2 separate regions of the Homo sapiens genome follow, and region 2 is linked to region 1. Evidence: fine-mapped expression QTL. A gene starts in region 1. The other region holds a variant in brackets. All regions are shown on one strand. Distances are between the middles of the regions. Region 1 holds the start of OR51E2 (olfactory receptor family 51 subfamily E member 2). Region 2 overlaps LOC105376528 (a long non-coding RNA gene).

What was found.
Region 2: its variant is fine-mapped to the expression of OR51E2 in left ventricle (GTEx, PIP 0.97).

What each region holds. Positions count from the first base shown.
Region 1 is chr11:4,696,514-4,699,444 of GRCh38, reverse strand. It overlaps OR51E2 (olfactory receptor family 51 subfamily E member 2), which reads left to right and starts at 1,592. Exons shown (of 2, transcript NM_030774.4): 1 at 1,592-1,792. OR51C1 (olfactory receptor family 51 subfamily C member 1) reads left to right here and starts at 1,592. Exons shown (of 2, transcript NM_001396051.1): 1 at 1,592-1,792. The coding sequence starts at 1,784.
Region 2 is chr11:4,670,206-4,673,136 of GRCh38, reverse strand. LOC105376528 (a long non-coding RNA gene) reads right to left here. Exons shown (of 3, transcript XR_930990.3): 3 at 878-1,116. Among named protein-coding and RNA genes, the nearest start is that of OR51C1, 26 kb to the left of the region's middle. The variant T/C (reference allele first, on the strand shown) is at 1,554.

The DNA of each region.
Region 1 (2,931 bases):
AGACCCGTGTGACTATATTGGATCCACCCAGCTAATCCATCTAATCTTGCCATCTCAAGTTATTTAACTTTAATCACATCTGCAAAGTCCCTTTGCAATGTAAGGTGACATATTCACAGGTTCCAGGCATTAAGACATAGGTATCTTTAGGGGCCATTATCCTGTCTACCACAAACACTTGGCCTAGTATCATGGATGTAGAATGCATAATAAAATATTATTGTTCTTGTTATTTATTGTTTTTATTACATTATGAAGAAGAAAATATCTCAGGCCATGACATTTTCAGTAGTGAAACAGATTTGATAGTGGAGAGGAGATAATATCGGAAGCAGGGAGAATGGTTAGGAAACTACTGAAGTTACCCAAGTGAGAGATAATTGTGACTTAAATAAAGGTGACATTTCTGGAGATGATAAACAGTGATCAATTTCTGATTGTATTTTTCAAAGAGATTGACATAATTTACCAATGGATTAAATGCAGGGTGTAAGAGACAGAAACTGAGAATGAATCAAAGACCCATATGCCCAAGTGTGGTCCAAATTGGTGGGAATATCTAAGGATCTAAAGAGGCCATAAGGAGAAAAGATGGACAACTTATAGCAATCTATGCATTCTATTTATTAAAGACTAATGAGAGTGATAGTAAACTGACAGAAGGTGACATCATTGGCCAAGTCAATCACCCACCTACCTGCAATTTTTCTTGGTATAATACAAGATTTTCAAAATTTGACTATAAGTAGAGAGAACCCCAAATTATTGTGACTAATTCTCTTCAACCTGGTAGGTTGGGACTTCAAAATACGAAATAGGTCAAATTATAAAAAAGTAAATGAAACCGTATTTTATACACAAGTAAGTTGTGAACCAAGATTTTTACCTACTGTATTCACCAAGCATTTGGTTCATGCCTCTAGGATAACCTTATCATTGGTTAACATGTAATTATTGGTTAACCTGTCTATCTTCTACACTAAAATCCTAAACAGTAAGAATTATGGTGTATTCTTAAAAAAAAAAACTCTATCACTGAGTATAATGTTTAGAATATGGGACATTCTTATGAAATATTTACTGGATATATGTATGGATGAGTAAATGAATTATTTTTTATCTGTAAGAGAAAGACTGCTGCTGCAAAGAACCACAGGTGGGCTAATGAAACCATACTGCTGTGAATAATCATAGATACTGAGGAGTTAAGGGGTGGAGTTGGACTCTCACTCATAATGGGAGATGTCATTTAGCAATTTGCTACAATATTTCGTTTTTTAAAATCTCCTTCAGAGTGACTGCTAGTGATTATGAGGTTCCTTTTAAGGGTAATAAAAAATGTTCTAAAATTGAATTGTGATGATGGTTCTTGCACAGTTCTGTGACTTTACTAAAAAAAATTGAATCATACACTATAAATGGGTGAATTTTATAGTATGTGAATGATATAACAATAAAGCTGTTAAATAAAAAAGCTTTTGAGTGAAATGACACATGAAAAAAAGGTTACATCAGCCCATAAAGCACATAGCCACCGTAAGTAATTGCATAATGGAACAGATATAAAAGGACTGTATGAGGCAAAAGAAGTCTTCTGGGAATCTCCACACCCTGAAGACACAGTGAGTTAGCACCACCACCAGGAATTGGCCTTTCAGCTCTGTGCCTGTCTCCAGTCAGGCTGGAATAAGTCTCCTCATATTTGCAAGCTCGGCCCTCCCCTGGAATCTAAAGCCTCCTCAGCCTTCTGAGTCAGCCTGAAAGGAACAGGCCGAACTGCTGTATGGGCTCTGTAAGTAAAACTGTTTTGTTCAATGAAAATGCTTGACTCTAGATGAATTGGACTTTCTCACCCACAGGGAGTAATTTCCTCACAATGTGCAGAATTAGATTAGATGTTGGTATGGTGGGCTGAGGAGGACGGTAGAATTTCAGAATTATTTATTCCCAGGAAATACGTAGAGAATGGGTATTTCGTTCTGCCTGATATAGGTTAGATAACTTGTTTTTAGTCAAATGGTTTAATCAGTGTGCTGATATATTTATCACAGTCAGTGAATCTCATTTCTATGCCCAATAACTATTACTAAAAATGAAAAGTTACCAATTTCGAACGCATTGCCTGCCAGCTACTGGTATTAGACACAGCGCATATCCTGTCTTATAGATGAGGAAACTGGGTCACAGAAAGTTTATATTACTTGTAGATTTCAGTAAAACAATTGTTTTTGAGAGCACGAGCTTTGGAATTAAAAAGACCTGAGTTAAAAATTCAGCTCTGACTTTCACCAGTTGTATGTGATTTCAAATATGTTTCAGACTTCTGATACTCAGTGTCTTTACCAGAAAAATGAATTTAAAGTGAATCTAATAATACTTGTCACATGATGACATAGTAAGAATTAAAATAATGCTTATAAAGCACTGAGGACAATAATGTTCACAGAACACGTGTCCAGTAAATGGTAGCTATTTCTATGAGTAATATTTTTATTAATGGTGTAGATGGTCTCAAAACTAGTTAGTGTTTGAGCAAGAATCTGAACCCAGGTCAGTCACACATGATAGCCATACCATTGACAATAGCATGGAGAATACTGATGACACTATAAGGTCTAGTTCAGCAGATTAAGACAGCCACAAGCTATAGCTTATAATAGTGCAATGAAAGAGGAGCATCATTGTAATCCGAGTGGGCAGAAAAATTAGTTGAGAGAATATAGCTTATTTCACAAGAGAGAAAATGAAAGTATATATGGATTGGAGAGGATGGGTCGGAAAGATTCTAGAGTGAAGGCAGCACAAAAGAGAAGCTTGGGGGAAATTTAGTGCCTCCTTCTAAGGATATTCATTAGTCCCCCTCTTGTCTTGAATATAAACACTTAAGATTTTTTCAATGTAAGAAAAATGCAATGAAATAATAGCTGCAAA
Region 2 (2,931 bases), 26 kb after region 1:
TTCCTGGGTGTTTTGGGAGCTGAATCAATTCACTGAGGTGGTCCTAGACAGCTTCTTCCGTGAGAGGCTTCCAGAATTGGGAGTCTCAGGCAAGTGGTCACTATAGTGAGAGTATCTTTCCCAGTGAAACAGGGTCTCCAGGGACTAAGGACCATAAAAACATTGCCCTTTTCCCAGCCATGTTTATGTTGGCCTGGTCAGTGGAGGGTACCAGTTTAGGTGGCCAATTCCCCCGGAGAGCCACAGTCTGAGGTTGCCCAATAAATAGGACAGCTCCCATCCCCCAGTAATTTCATCTAGCCCCCATCTCTGAGCAGCACATCATCTATCCCAGACTAGATTGATAAGAAATAAGAGAAGAACGTAAATGTGTTTGTGTCTGGGGATAGATATTTCCTTAGGCATTTTATTATTGTAAGAAAAGATTTACACTCAATATGTATTTATGACCAGAGATTACCAGCATCACATATTTGGGATTCTTTCCGACTATAATCATCACCAATTCTCCCAGCTGGTGCTAAAGTTATTGCCCAGTGTCCGTTTCTTAATATCATTTAATGTTAAACCTTCAAGAATGATTGACAATGTTTGGCAATGTTTGAGGACCTAAAATATAAAAGAAACAAAAAAAAAATAGTGGATATTACAATGAGTATCAGATATAAAACCAAATGTATTGAGAGCCCTCAGTGCGCCCATGGAGGAATAAACAAGGTACAGCAGCCACAGAGAAGGGAGAAACCAGCTTTGTTGTGGAGATGAAGGAAAGCTTCATGAACAGGTGACATTTAAACAGGGGCCAGATTGAGGTTTGGGGGAAGTAAGTGAGATTAAAGCAGAGGGAGTATACGGAGACATCAAATAGTGAGGTGACTTCTGACAATGCAAGAAGATTTTATTGCCAGAGCATAGGCCACGTGTTCCCCTGAGTTCTCCTAAGACAAAAGCCTAAGAGCAGCTACTCTACTGGGGACTGGACCCAGTAAGCAAAAGTCAGGGACAGGGAGTTTGGAGCAGCGAAAAGGGAGAGCCCAAACAAACATGCATTGTAGAGTTGTCCACATAATATGAGACTGTTGCCAGTTCTTGCAGTACTTGCCCATAATCTTCTTCCTGGGGGAAGTAAATGAAAAGTAATTATTCCTCCTGTATTCAATTAGTTAAGAATTGCTCCACAGAGCATTAACTCCCAAAACTGGCAGACTGCCTATGCTTGAGTATTCAGTGGGTTCCCATGGGCCCCCACGACAGAGCATCAGAGGAGAAACCCCAGGGTCCAGATGAGCCTGTGACAGGCTGCACCTGCACAGAACTGGTAGCCATAGCAGTGGCTGAAATGGGAATTGAAGTTGCAGGGATTTTAAATGATTTACAATTATCTCAGTAGCCAAGGCTGAATAGATGAATTAAAAATCTTAAAGGAGACTCCTCCCACATTGGGGAAGACAGAATAGACATATTTTCCTATTTATTTGCTAAGAACATGTTTCTATTTATTTGCTAAGAACAACTAAAAACCTTGGGCATTGTGTATAAAACAAACACAAAAT[T/C]CCAAGGGTAGACAAGAGGCAGACCATCTAAGGAGCTTGGGATATGAGGAATGACATCATGAAATAGAGGAATGACATAGTGGTCATCCTTAATGATTGAATTTTCTTCTTACCTCATATATCTGACTTGGAGCTGAAGAAACTGACAACACAGAAATGCTAATGTGCACAGATAGTAAAAGCCCTCTCAAAAGCCTGCTCCCTCTAGCCAATGAAAGGGGAATCCTAGCAAGGCAGAAGATTTCAAAAAACCACTTTACTCCGGCAAAACACTGCAGAAAAAAAAACAAACTGTGACCACATGACCCCCAACTCATGTCAGCAAAGGCCAAATGGAGAACCCAGACTTCCAACCTCATGAGGCTGTAATGAGGCACCCAACACCCTCCTCAGGGTGGTGGTATCAGAGAATGTCGAATAGGCAGTTGAGACTGTCATTCCTGCCAGCCAATAATGAGTAGCCCCTTTCTCCATGGTGTCAGTGGAAACCATGTGGGTGCCTGGATTTCAACCCTCACTGGGCAGTAATAAGATGTCCATCCCATCCCCCATGGGATGATGGCAGAGGAGGCCTAGTAGAGAATCAAGATATTCACCGCCACCCCAGAGTAATGAGGACCCTCACACCATGTAATCATAAAGAAAATGTGGAGAAAATACCCATCTTCACTTAGTGGTAATAAATCTCCCACCACCAGTATCAACGGAGACCAAATTTAAAAAGAATAAAAGTTACACGCAATATGTTCTCCAATACAATGTAATCACAGAAAGATAACTTGGAAATTCCTAAATAATTAATGATAACAAAAAGCAGTCTCAATGGAAATAAAAAATAATTTGACGTGAATAAAAATGAAAATAAAACATACCAAAATTTGTATAACACAGATAAAACAGTGCTGAGAAGAACATTTGTAGCTTAAATGAATATATTAAAAAGGAAGAAAAGTCTCATATCAATAATCTAGGCTATGCCATCAAGAACCAAGGAAAAGAAGAGCAAAACAAAACCCAAAGCAAGTAGAAGGAAATGATAGAGATAAGAGAAGAAATCAATAAAATTAAAAACAGAAAAAAATAAATAAAATCTTTGAAACAGAGCTGATTCCTTGAAGAGATCAATAAAATTAATAAGCTCCTAGCAAGACTAACAGAGAAAAAAGAAAGAAGGCATGAATTAATAATATCAGGAATGAAAAGGAGGTTATTATTACAGACTCTGTGTACATCAAAAGAATAATGAGGAAATACTACAAACAATTCTATATACAGAAAAGTGGACCACTTCCTAGTAAAACACAAACTACCACAACTCCCAAAATATGAATATATAATTTGTAACCCTGTAACTATTAAGAATTGAATTTTTAGTTTA